Regions from separate parts of the Homo sapiens genome. Here regions 1 and 3 are each linked to region 2. The links come from fine-mapping of genetic effects on gene expression. A gene starts in region 2. Each other region holds a variant in brackets. All regions are shown on one strand. Distances are from middle to middle.

Region 1 (4,244 bases), 34 kb after region 2:
GCTTTGATTTCCTGACAGGGTTTGGCACTTTGAATGCAGTAGGTGCTCAATAAACACTTGTTCATTGACTCCGAAGCAGCTGTCATTCATAATGAAAATATCTCCAGGGGACATCAAAGGCACTCTATATTTCATGGGAACAAATCATTTTGAGATTTGGTGATAACAGTGAAACAGAGCGGCAGGCCTGGGTGGATTCCTGGTTTTGTCATTTTCCCAGGAATCTCTTGAGTTTTTAATACCTTGGTTTCTTCACCCTTAAAATGTAGAGTACATACTTTGCTTCTCCATAGACTCAGTTGTGAGGATCAGATGTGTGTGCAGAGGAGCACTCTTTGTATACCTAACACTCCATTTTTTTCCACCCCAGGCTCCTCATCATATGTCCCAGGATAGGATTCTGGGGCTGCCTCCTGGCTGTAAGGCTGAGTCATAAAGATGGTACCTGGGGTCAGCTTCCGCTTTCTCCTCTGCAGCAGAAGCCTGAATGTAGTTGGAGCTTGAGAGAGTCAGCCAAGCATAGATTAGACTAATAGCTAGCATGTATTAAGCCCTCCCTATGCACCAGACATTCTTCTGAGCACTCTCACACAAGAACCCTGGAGGTAGTTGCCATGATTGTCACTCTTTATATCAGAGGATAAAACTGAAGCATAGCCAGAAAGAGGAGGAGCCAAACGTGAACCCTGGCAGCCTGGGAGGAGCCCACAGTCTCAGCCACCCCATCGTAACTGCCTTTCCAGGTGGAGGAACAGGAGGTAGACAAGCTGTAACACAGCCTCCCTGGATCTGCTCTTGTCCTTCTCAGTCACACAAGCCAATAGATCCCCACTTTTGAAAGCAAGTTGTTATCCACAGGTCAGCTCTCAGGATTACAGAAGGTCAGAACGGTAAGGAGGGTGCGGAATGTGTGCTCCATCTTCTCAGGAGGATGAGGAAACAGGACCCTGACTTATACAAAGGCACGTATTCCTGCCATCTCTGCAGCCTCAGCCCCACTTCTGCCTCCCACAATGCTTCTGCACATCCTTACCTAACACATCTGGCCATTCCTGCTCTCATGCCATTGCTCAGCTCCATTTGAATTCTGCCACGTGTCCAATCCCATGTCTTCCGTGAAACCTTTGCTCATTCCATCAGCCCACAGCTTTCTCTCTTTCCTCTGGGTCACCATAGCAGGTTCTATACCAGTCAACTCTATTCGGAGGCTGCCTACTGGAATCTTTAATGTTGATATTTAACTGTGAACTCTGTTTAACTCATGTGCCTCATCCTTGATGCCTATCTTGAATAAGTTCCTTAAGGGTGGGACATTCTGTTTCACTTCCTTTTATGATTCTCAAAGCAGCTAGCACCAGCCCTTTACATACAATTAATGTGTGTGTGTGTGTGGGTGGGTGGGGTGGGGGTGGGAGTTGACCCTTACTCTGTTGTTATTCATCTTTCTCTCACATGTACTGCCTATCAGCTCGGTCTAAGAAAGTCAATAGTCTCCTTCCCTTATTCACCTTCTGGCAGAGTAGCTCCAACACCTTTCCCAAGCCTGATCCAACCCTGTGTCTGGTGATACTCAAGCCTCAGTCAGGAGTGGAAAAAAACCCAGGCACTGGACAACTCATAACAGATAAGCTGCTGTTTGGGAACTTGATATTCCCTCTATGCAAACTGGACCAATGCACAACCTAGATATGTCACTGTAAATCTCTGTTGAATAAACAGCTCCAATATCATCAAAGTCACATCTTTACTTCTTTTCTTTATAACACAGTTGTCATGAACATCATGAGAAAGATGTAGAGGAAAACTGAAGGCTCTGACCATTTGGAAGCATTAAACATAGGAAAAGGTAGTGACCAGAATCCAAAATGTCAAATGAAATTCGGTATCAAGCCATATAAGTAACTGAACAAAATATTTGGTCTTTCTCAGTCAGAAAAAAAAAAAAGCTCCTTTTTTTTCCATCTACTTGTTAGGTGCTCTATTGAGTGCTTTGAACCTCATAACAAAGTAACATTTGTTCTGTTTTACAGAGTAGGAAACTGACACCCATTGAGGCTGGGTGACCAAT[GC/C]AGGATAATACAAATGGGGAGAGAAAGAGGTCATAAGCACATTTAGCAGAGACTGAAAACACTATCTGACACCCAATTTTTAAAATAACAAAAACTAGATCAGATCATCAGGAGTATGTGGATGTTTACTCTGTTGTGCCTTATATGAACTTGTCTTAATGCAAATCTCAGCAAAGATTCTTTCATCATAAAAAGCCAATAGACCCCATTCTAAAATGGAAATATCTAATTATAAAAGTACTAATTATAAAAGTAGATTTTCAGTATTTTTCCCACAATTAAAAACACCAAAAAGTAGATGTTCATTGTAAAAAAAAAAAACCACAAAAATAGTACCATAAATAAAATAGAATGAAAATCACAAGTAATCTACCTAGGAATAATGGGTTAATTATGAAGGGTTTATAAAAATCTAAATTCCTCTGCACTGTGGTAGTTCTACAGTGATCTTTCAGAAATGGTAACTGTGAATGACAGGCCAGTTTGCCAATATCGTTTTATTTTAGTTTCATTGATTTTTGAGGAAGAGGGATTAAGGTCAAAGTATTGGCAAATTCACATGAATCTATTGCAATCATCAGTCTAAACTGCTTTGTGCAACTAAACTGACAGCTTCTCCTTTTGTACCCAGGAAACTCAGTGTTCAAAATAATATCATTGTGTTGATCAGATAATCAAAAGAAATGGGACACTTCAGGGCATGGAGGATGACTATAAATGTTAGTGCAAGGTGGAAAATGCTGTCTTTCTAAACCCAGTGAAACTGTCCTAGTCTCCAGATAAAGACAGATTTTATTTCTTATATAGAGAGCAGATTCCTGCTGAATGTTGAGGGTCTGAGAAGCAAATAAAAGGTCAAGCATACATGCTTTCTATTTATGCTACTGGCTGACTGCATCTATAATCCAAACCAATGTACAATAGGGGGGATGCATTTGAAGACTCCCAGTGGATGCTTGAAACTGCAGATAGTACTAAATCCTATATATACTGTTTTTTCCTATTCATGCATACTTATGATAAATTTTAATTTGTAAATTAGGCACAGTAAGAAATTAACAACAACAATAATAAAATAGAGCAATTATAACAATATCCTGTAATAAAGGTTATATCGATGTAGTCTCTCTCTCTCTCTCTCTCTCTCTCTCTCTCTCTCTCAAAATAGCTTATTGTACTGTACTGCCAGTAACTAAAACCATGGAAAGTGAAACAGCAGATAAGAGGGGATGACTGTATTACTTACATATTTTCAAAGGCAGTTTTTACCTCTCATAACATACTATTCTAAGGAATTGCGACAAAACATGAATTTAGAGCCAATGTTTACAATTTAAAAGAATATAATCTTCTAAGCACTGAAAAAAAGACATACACCAGAATTATTACAGAAATTGAAAGAGGCTTTACAATTTTTGAAAAAAGACATACATCAGAATTATTAAAGAAATGGAAAGAGGCCTCACAGTTATTTTGCCTGGATTAAGAAGGCTAAGAGGTGACAAAAACTGCCTTTGAGATATAAAAGGTTATTATGAGGAATTGTGGTGAACCTACTTATTTACCAATTGCAAACCATTGTTATTTAAATGCCATTTATAATGTCTCTAAACTTGAATGTGTAACTGAAAAAGGAATATAACCCCATTAAGTCCATAATAGATGTATTTGGTCCAATGGTTCATATCAAAAAGATTGAGTGTATTTTAGCTTAAGGAGTCTACCATGAATCACCTCCATAGCATAAACTATCAGGTATGGTCTGAGGTGCCCACCATAAATAACAAAAACATTCTTGTCCCCTGGGAAATTCCAAGGGTTTCAATGCTACCTCCCAGGAGCTAGAGACAAAAGCCAGCCAAATTCTTTATCACACAAAATTATATATCAGATAAGGGTCTAGTGTCCAGAATGTATAAAGAACACTTAAACCGAACAAAAAAAGACCATCCAATTAAAAAGTGAGCAAGGGATTTGAATAGACATTTTTCAAAAGAAGTTATACAAATGGCCAATAAGCACAAGAAAAGATACTCAGCATCGTTTGTTATTAGGAAATTCAAATCAAACCTACAATGAGATACTACTTCACACCATTATGATGATTATAATAATTTTTTAAAAAAAACAGAAAATAAGTGTACGCAAGGATGTGGATTGGAACCCTCAAGCAAT
Region 2 (4,244 bases):
TAGAAACCTATTCATTTTGGTTCCTGCGGGGCCTTGGAACACATACCTTAAAAAAAATCCCACCAATAGAATGTTACTTATATATATTCCTGAAAAAAAATGTTTCCTCAAAACTCTTCTCCCAATTTAAATTCTAAAATGCATGACTTGAAATTTATGTTTATATTTCTAGTATCTATATCTATAAAGTTGGAAATCAGTTTTTCAAATGACTCTGAACAAGCCCTCAGAAACTAAAGAGCATATTTAAACTTTCAGATTTATAAGTGTTATAACAAGTTTAATCACTTAAGTCTGTTAATGATTTATAGTGAAAACAACTCAAACTTCCGGTCGGTCTAGTTTTAACTCCTCTTAATTTTACACATTGTTTTATGAGCCCCAAAGGGTTAGGTAGGCATCTTACGGATCACTCCATTGCTAGCACCTCCCACAGCCTCTGTGGTGTGCGGTAGATGCTGTCTGATCTGAACTCACATGGAAAATTCAGCTGCGAATATTTTTACGCAACAGCAAAAACAATCAGCCTTTTTCATATCAAGGTGGGGATTGAGAAGCTAAATGAGAACATTAGGGGCATAAAATTAGTCTGCTTTAACTTTAATAACCAAACGGTGATTGGAAACATACAAACTTTGTGTTTGCAGGAATGAGGGGCTGGGATCACTAAGACTTAAAGGGTTTTTCTCCCCCACCCCGCGACCATGAGCACACAGCAAAACTAATAAAATTATGACCCAGAATTAAAAGGTCGCATTCATTTTCAAAGCATTCATTTAAAAGTACAGAAGCGTTCTTTAAAAATGCCCACATTTTTAAACATAGCAAGAATGTGGCTACCAAATATTAATCCTGAGGAATATGAATACACATTTACCTTCATAATTACACCCAGCAGGTCAAATGTTAGCAAGGCCAACTGACCGAAATCACAAAGACTGATTGAAAATGACCAACAGAAAGTGTCTGTCCGGCTTGGGAGCCCCGCTTGTTCCCAGCCCAACCAGTGGTCAAACATCTGCAGGCAAAGAAATCTACACGCGCCAGCCGGGTATGGCAGAAATCAAACTTTTCCAAATAAGTTAGTTCCGTCTTGCCAATCTACACCCAACAGGTGTCAATACATGTCACCAGACAAAAATCTGGCGAGCCAGGTCTAGAGAAGCAATAGATGGTTGGCAGAGAAGCTGAAACGACTCGACCTCTACCAGGGTAATGAAAGCAAGTCGGGCCACTATTCTGACTGATCACTTGGCAGTGGGGTGGAGGGGTATGGAGATGGGAGAATCCCTGGATGAAGATCGGAAGGAGCGTGGAGATGTCCCGCCACTGGTGACGCGGGGGGATTTCGGAGCATAGTCCCCGCACTCTTTCACGACCCCCGACCCCTGATCCCCGGATTAGGACGGCAAGGGAGTGCGGCGATCAAGGCTGGGAGACCGCGGAGAGAAGGCGCGCGGTACCTGCTTGTCCAGCGCGTCTCGGACGCCTCCCTGCCCGGCGCCGGCCCTGGGTGGCGCGGGCGTTCGTTCGCAGCTGCAGCCCTCCAGGAGGTACATGCCCGCCGGGCGGCAGCTCTGCTCGCCCTCGAAGTAGAAGAGCACATTCTGGTAGAGGGCGAACCACTTCTCGTGCCAGCGGCTCGCCTCGGCCGTCTTCTTACTCAGGAAGCCGCGCTTGGTGCCCTCCTTGCGCGCCAGAAAGGCCAGGTACAGGGCGTGCCCCTCGTTGTAGCGCACGCTCTTCTGCATGGTGCGGGTGCGGAGGGCTCACGGGTGGCCGCCGGTCTCACCCCTGCCTCGCGGCCATGGCCCAGCTGGCTCCCTCGAGGGCGCGACCGCTCAGGTCCCGGCCGGCGAAGGGCGCCCCCTTTCCCCACGCCGCGCGCAGGGCACCCCGCCCGCTTTCGGGAGGCCGCGGCGCGCGGTGGCAGGGGCGCGGGCTGGGGCCGAGGCACGCTCTCCGCCCTAACCACCACCCTCCCGGCCGAGCCCCCGGAGCCCCCCAAGCCCCCAACGCCCGCGTGGAGCGCGGCCCCGCGAGGGCGCCCGAGCCGGCCGCCGCTTCGCCCAAAGTTGCGGGAGCCGAGCCCCCGCGGCGGGCTGGGGCGGCAGCCGGGGAAGGACTGTCCTCGGGCAACGCGCTCCGGGAGACAGAAGGTAAAACGTCACGTGGGAGCTCAGCTGTAATCGGCTTGGAGACCGATTTAAAGGGCAAAGTCGGCGCGGCGCCGGCGGTGGCGCAGCCCGCTTGCCCCGGCTCGCGTCCCTCCCTCGCCCGCCCCGGCCCGGGCCGCTGCCTCTGCTCGGGCGCCCGCCGGGATGGGGCGGATCAGGGAGGTGGAGGCGCCCGGCCGCACCACACACCCGCTCACACGCGCTCGCACACTCGCGCACAACGCGCGCACACACACACGCACACCCACACACACGCAGACCAGTACATTCACCCAGATCCACAATGCACACACTCAGACGCACAAAAATACACTCACAAATGCACACAAACACAATGCGCGCACATATGCACAAAAACACACGCGCACACACTCATGACACACAAATACACATTCTCACAACGCTCACACTCAACACACAGTCACAACGCACAAATGCATATAGACAAATACACCCACAATGTGCGTTCCCGCGCACAAAAATAAAACCCACATTCAGATACACACTTAAGGAGCTACACACATGCACGCAGTGATATGCTCACTTACACACACATTCACACACAACCCACACATTCACTCAAACCCACATTCAAACATACATTCATACACACATTACACTCATACAGTCACACAAACAGCACACATATACTCACACGTTCACAATCATACAGACTCATAAGCAGATAATCAAACACACACACAGATGAACACACATGTACATTCACAAATTCATCCAAAAATACACACAAAGCACTCACACACGTATTCGCACGAATCCACACACTTTCACAAACCCACTCACACATACACACACACTCACATGCCACATCCATAAGTACGTTCCCATGGCAGTAGGTAGAGTCACAGAGTGGCTTTGCATAGCCCGCATCCTTGGCTTTTCTGCTTGTACCTGCATTGTAGTATTTAAAACTGCCGGTAAAGGTTAAGGAGAGTGGCCCAAGTGTTCCCGGAAAGGCATCAGATGCCGAAGTTCTTTCGGAATGCCTGTTATTTCACAGTGGTAAGATGCTAAATTTTAAGTGCCGAGTTTTCAACCTGGAAAAAAATACCCAAATAAGGGACACTTTGCTGCCCAGGGCAGAATCCAACCCCAAAGGCCAGCTGTCACAGGCTCATCGTTTGTAGGACTGGATTCATTTGATTAACAAATCTGACAGGTACAACCAGAAAACCAAGAGCCACCCCCCCGCCCCAACCCCATGCTGTAAAAATGTAAGTGGAAAAGAAATAATGTAGCCAGCAGCTGTGAGAGAAAGCCAGTGAAACCCCCGGGGAGGGCCTATATTTGATTCTGCTATACACATTTTTTATTTTCCCCAGTCATTTATCACTAAAACGGAGTGCCATCATAAAATGTTTATTGTTAAAAGTAAATAATAATGCTTTTCTGGGTGATGAGTCTACGACAATACACCTGTCTTGTACTGCCAGTTGTGTGTTCATGAATTGGTAGCCCCAGGGGTTCTGCCTGTTTCATAAGTGCTGTTTCTGCAGAATATTTTAACTCTGCCTCACTGAGCAGCTGAGTGGGGTTTTTTTTTCCTTTTACCTTTTTAAAAAATTTTCACTTTTAACAAGTATATAGTAGGGAAATTGCCATTTTGAAATTACAGCGTGAGAACAGTGGTCATTTCTCTTTACGTTTTTAAAAATATCTAAAGGACAGTGCTGTGCTAAATTGGGTTTAACCCAGCTGGAAGTTTGCATTGTTCTTCAGAGAAGACACAAGTACAGAGACAGTAAGTAAATGCAGGCAACATTTTGGAGCCAGATTCTAGATGCAGAGGAGCTGGTGATTGCCTCAGGAGGCCTTTTATTTCTTTCTCTGTGGTCCAATCCCAGCTGTGAGAACCGTAAGTGAGTAGACACCTGTGTGGTTGATAAGCTCCATTTTTTTAGTAGAAACCAGTAAGAGTGTGAAATCAGCACAAAAACTATTTTGCCATGAGTAGTCAAACCTTCTAACGCACTTGAGTTTTTTCAGATGTGAAAGATTCTCTTCTTCAATAAGCAATGTCTCAGTTACCATCTCTGTCTCCTTAAA
Region 3 (4,244 bases), 330 kb before region 2:
AGAATAATTTAGGAAGGAGTTCTTCCCTGATTTTTTTTTTAATAGTTTCAGTAGAATTGGTACCAGCTCTTCTTTGTATGTCTGTTAGAATTCTGCTGTGGATCCATCTGGTCTGGGGCTTTTATTGGCTTATAGATTTTTTTTATCACTGGTTTCAATTTCAGAACTTGATACCGGTCTATTCAGGATTTCAGTTTCTCCCTGATCCAATCTTAGGAGATTGTGTGTTTCCAGGAATGTGTCCATTTCCTCTTGATTTTCTAGTTTGTGTGCATAGAGGTGTTCATAATAGTCTCTCAGTATCTTTTGTATTTCTGTGGGATTGGTGGTAATATCACCTTTGTCATTTATTTAGAGACAGGGTCTTACCCTTTTGCCCAGGCTGGAATGCAGTGCCATGATCATTGGCTCACTGAGGTCTTGACCTCCCTAGGCTCAGGTAATCCTCCCACTTCAGCCTCCCAAGTAGCTGGGACTACAGGTGCATGCCACCATGCCCAGCTAACTTTTGTAGAGACAGGGTTTCATCATGTTACCCAGGTGGTCTTGAACTCCTGGGCTCAAGTGATCCACCCACCTTGTCCTCCTAAAGTGCTAGGATTACAGGCATGAGCCACCATGCCTGGCCACCTTTGTCATATCTAACTGTGCTTATTTGGATCATCTCTCTTTTTTCTTTGTTAATCTAGGTAGTGGTCTGTGATCTTTTTTATCCTTCAGAAAACCAATTTTTGGTTTTGTTGATTCTTTGTATGGACTTTTGGGTCTGAATTTTGTTTGGTTCTGCTCTGAAATAACTAAAATTTCTTTTCTTCTGCTAGCTTTGGGGTTCTTATTTTTCTAGTTCCTCTGTCTGATGTTAGGTCATTAATTTGAGATTTTTCTAACATTTCAAGTACAGTTTTTGCTGTATCTTAGATATTTTGGTATGTTGTCTATTTTCATTTCTTTCAAAGAATTTTTTGATTTCTGCCTTAATTTTCTTGTTTACCCAAAAGTCCTCTGGGACTAAGTTGTTTAATTTCCATGTAATTGTGTGGTTTTGAGCGATCTTCTTGGCATTTATTTCTGTTTTTATCCCACTATACTTTGAGAGTATGGTTGGTATGATTTTGATTTTTTTTTTAGTTTATTAAGACTTGGTTTATGCCCAGGATGTGGTTGATCTTGGAGTATGTTCCCATGTGCATATAAGAATGTGTCTTGTGGCAAACTAAAGCAGGAACACAAAACCAAATACTGCATATTCTCACTTATAAGTGAGAGTTGAACAATGAGAACACATGGACACAGGGAGGGGAACAGCACACACTGGGGCCTGTAGGCAGGGTCAGGGGCTAGGGGAGGGAGAGCATCAGGAAAAATAGCTAATGCATGCTGAGCTTAATACTTAGGTGATGGGTTGACAGGTGCAGCAAACCACCATGGCACACATTTACCTAGGTAACAAACCTGCACATCCTGCATATGTACCCCAGAACATAAAATAAGAATGTATATTCTGTGGTTGATAGGTGGAAGTATTTTATAGATGTCTATTAGATCCAGTTGGTCAAATGTCAAATGTCAGTTTAGAGTTTCTTTGTTAGTTTTCTACCTTGATGATCTTTCTAATGTTGTCAGTGTGGTGTTGGAGTCTTCCACTATTACTGGGTGGCTGTCTTAAGTCTTTTTGTAGATGTAGAAGTACTTGTTTTATGAATCTTGTTGCCCCAGTGTTGTGTGCATATATATATTTAGGATAGTTACATCTTCTTGTTGAATTGAACCCTTTATCATTATATAATGCCCTTCTTTGTCCTTTTTTTTTTTTTTGCTGTTATTGGTTTAGTCTGTTTTAGCTGATATAAAAATAGCGACCCCTGCTCTTTTGTTTTCCATTGCATGATAGATCTTTTTCCAACCTTTTACTGAGTCTGTGGGTGTCCTTATGTGTGAGATTGGTCTCTTGAAGACAGCAGATGGATAGGTCTTGCTTTTCTAATCCAACTTGCCACTCTG[C/T]GCCTTTTAAGTGGGGGCATTTAGATCATTTACATTCAAGATTAATATTGATATGTGAGGTTTTGTGGATCCAGAATTTTAAATGTCTGTTTCCTTCCCTGTGCTGAGAGATATGGCCATGTTATCTTCCTGAGATTGTCTAATATTTCTATTACTTGCTGGGCTAATAATAAAGTACACATTGATACCTGACAAATATTCATCTTTCCTTGCCAACTTTATATATTGCAGAATGTTATAGTAGCCCTATTTGAAGATGGTTGGACTTTCCATCCCTGTCATGGAATGGGGAATATATTCCTAGAAAAGAGTTTTTTTTTTTTTAATTGGGGCCTTATTGGCTTAGAAAAGCACTAACAACTTAAAAGAGGGAAAAAACAACATCTCAGCAGTATAATGAGAAAATTTGGGATCAGAGAAAGATGTTTTGTTTCTATTTTAAGAAATAACAGGATGGCAAAAGACAGATACAGATAAGTTGATCTCTTTTTTTTTTTTTTTTTTTTTTTTGAGACAGAGTCTCCCTCAGTCGCCCAGGCTGGAAAGCAGTGGCTCGATCTCTGCTCACTGCAAGCTCCGCCTCCTGGGTTCACGCCATTCCCCTGCCTCAGCCTCCGGAGTAGCTGGGACTACGGGCGCCCGCCACCACGCCCAGCTAATTTTTTTTGTATTTTTTTTGTAGAGACGGGGTTTCACCATGTTAGCCAGGATGGTCGCAATCTCCTGACCTCGTGATCCGCCCTCCTCGGCCTCCAATAGGCCATTTAAGTGAATATCGAAGCGATGTGCCAGAGAGTGTGTTACTTAAAAAACATCTTAAGGCTGGGCGCGGTGGCTCACGCTTGTAATCCCAGCAGTTTGGGAGGCTGAGGTGGGCGGATCACTTGAGGTTAGGAGTTTGAGACCAGCCTGGCCAACATGGTGAAACCCCGTCTCTACCAAAAATACAAAAATTAGCCAGGCGTGGTGGCAGGCCCTTGTAATCCCAGCTACTCGGGAGGCTGAGGCAAGAGAACTGCTTGAACATGGGAGGCAGAGGTTGCAGTGAGCTGAGATCGTGCCACTGCACTCCAGCCTGGGCGACAGAGCGAGACTCCATCTTAAAAAAAAAAAAAACTTGAATAATTAAATTTTTTGCCTGTCTACCACAAAGAGATGTGACTGCACTGTTAACCACATTGTTGCCAAATGAGTAAAATGTGTAAAAGATTTTAATACCAGTCCTCTTTTATTCATTAAAGTCTTCTTATGGCTCGTTAATTTTAATGGTATAATCTAGTTCTGATTGAAGTGCACCTGAATGCAGTTAGTGCCTCATCAGTCCTGATGAGTTCCAAGTAATTCAGGCCCTGTCTGCAGTGTTCACAAATTGTGTCTATATTTACATCTGTTTCATGCATGTTTGCACGTGTCTTCAGCAGTACAGTTTTTACAAGAGCCCAGTGTCTTCCTTTTTGGCCTCATCTACATTATTTAAAAGAGTTTTCTATTTTCATAATTGCTTTTATGCCAAAAATAAGTTTTATGCAAACAAAGATTTTGTGATGATGCCAAAATTTGGCATTCAGGTTGAAAATAGATACAGCTTATGAGTCAAATACACTTTTGGAGAATAGGGAATCTGATGTATATAGTAAAAAGTAAATGATAATATCAGTTCATTGGATTTCCACTATAACTCGTAAGTTTCATGAAGCTATTAAAAAACTCTTCTTAAATCCTGCTTTTACAGTTTCATAATTACATACCTCAAACTAGGTTTACTCATTTTCAGATATAGATTATGTTTGCAGAATGAATACATGATTAATTATGGTATACCTCTTTAATCCTTCATTTCTGGTGTGGGTGTTTTCACAGCACTCAGATAAGTGATTGGTTGAACATGGTCAAACAGTCTAACCCCTAGGGTGAATAGAGCTTTCTCTGATGGTGCTGAAGGTTTATTCATCAGTTACGATCTCGCTCTTTTTTTTTTTTTTTTAACATGAAGTTTCACTCTTGTTGTCCAGGCTGGAGTGCAGTGGTGCGATCTCGGCTCACTGCAACCTCTGCCTCCTGGGTTCAAGTGATTCTCATGCCTCAGCCTCCCGAGTAGCTGGGATTACAAGCATCTGCCACCACACCCGGATAATTTCTTGTATTTTTAGTAGAGATGAGGTTTCACCATGTTGGCCATGCTCATCTCAAACTCCTGACCTCAGGTTGATCCACCTGCCTCGGCCTCCCAAAGTGCTAGGATT

Direction of the effects. Positions count from the first base shown, and alleles are read on the strand shown. Sizes are in standard deviations (SD) of each study's normalised expression. Not every link is listed here.
In carriers of allele T in region 3, the expression in cerebellar hemisphere of the gene that starts at base 2,127 in region 2 tends to be lower than with C alone (small effect, 0.35 SD a copy in GTEx).

Evidence for each region. PIP is the estimated chance that this variant, and not a neighbour inherited with it, causes the effect. A credible set is the group of variants that fine-mapping cannot tell apart.
Region 1: its variant is the best candidate, but not a certain one, in a credible set for the expression of RASGRF2 in ovary (GTEx, PIP 0.75).
Region 3: its variant is the best candidate, but not a certain one, in a credible set for the expression of RASGRF2 in cerebellar hemisphere (GTEx, PIP 0.64).

What each region holds. Positions count from the first base shown.
Region 1 is chr5:80,924,523-80,928,766 of GRCh38, reverse strand. No RefSeq gene overlaps it. Among named protein-coding and RNA genes, the nearest start is that of RASGRF2, 34 kb to the left of the region's middle. The variant GC/C (reference allele first, on the strand shown) is at 2,069.
Region 2 is chr5:80,958,246-80,962,489 of GRCh38, reverse strand. It overlaps RASGRF2 (Ras protein specific guanine nucleotide releasing factor 2), which reads right to left and starts at 2,127. Exons shown (of 27, transcript NM_006909.3): 1 at 1,464-2,127. The coding sequence starts at 1,751. It overlaps RASGRF2-AS1 (RASGRF2 antisense RNA 1), which reads left to right and starts at 1,583. Exons shown (of 4, transcript NR_105015.1): 1 at 1,583-1,709. RefSeq lists an enhancer at 1,303-2,024.
Region 3 is chr5:81,287,262-81,291,505 of GRCh38, reverse strand. The region is part of intron 1 of CKMT2-AS1 (CKMT2 antisense RNA 1); the gene reads left to right. Among named protein-coding and RNA genes, the nearest start is that of CKMT2-AS1, 12 kb to the left of the region's middle. The variant C/T (reference allele first, on the strand shown) is at 2,002.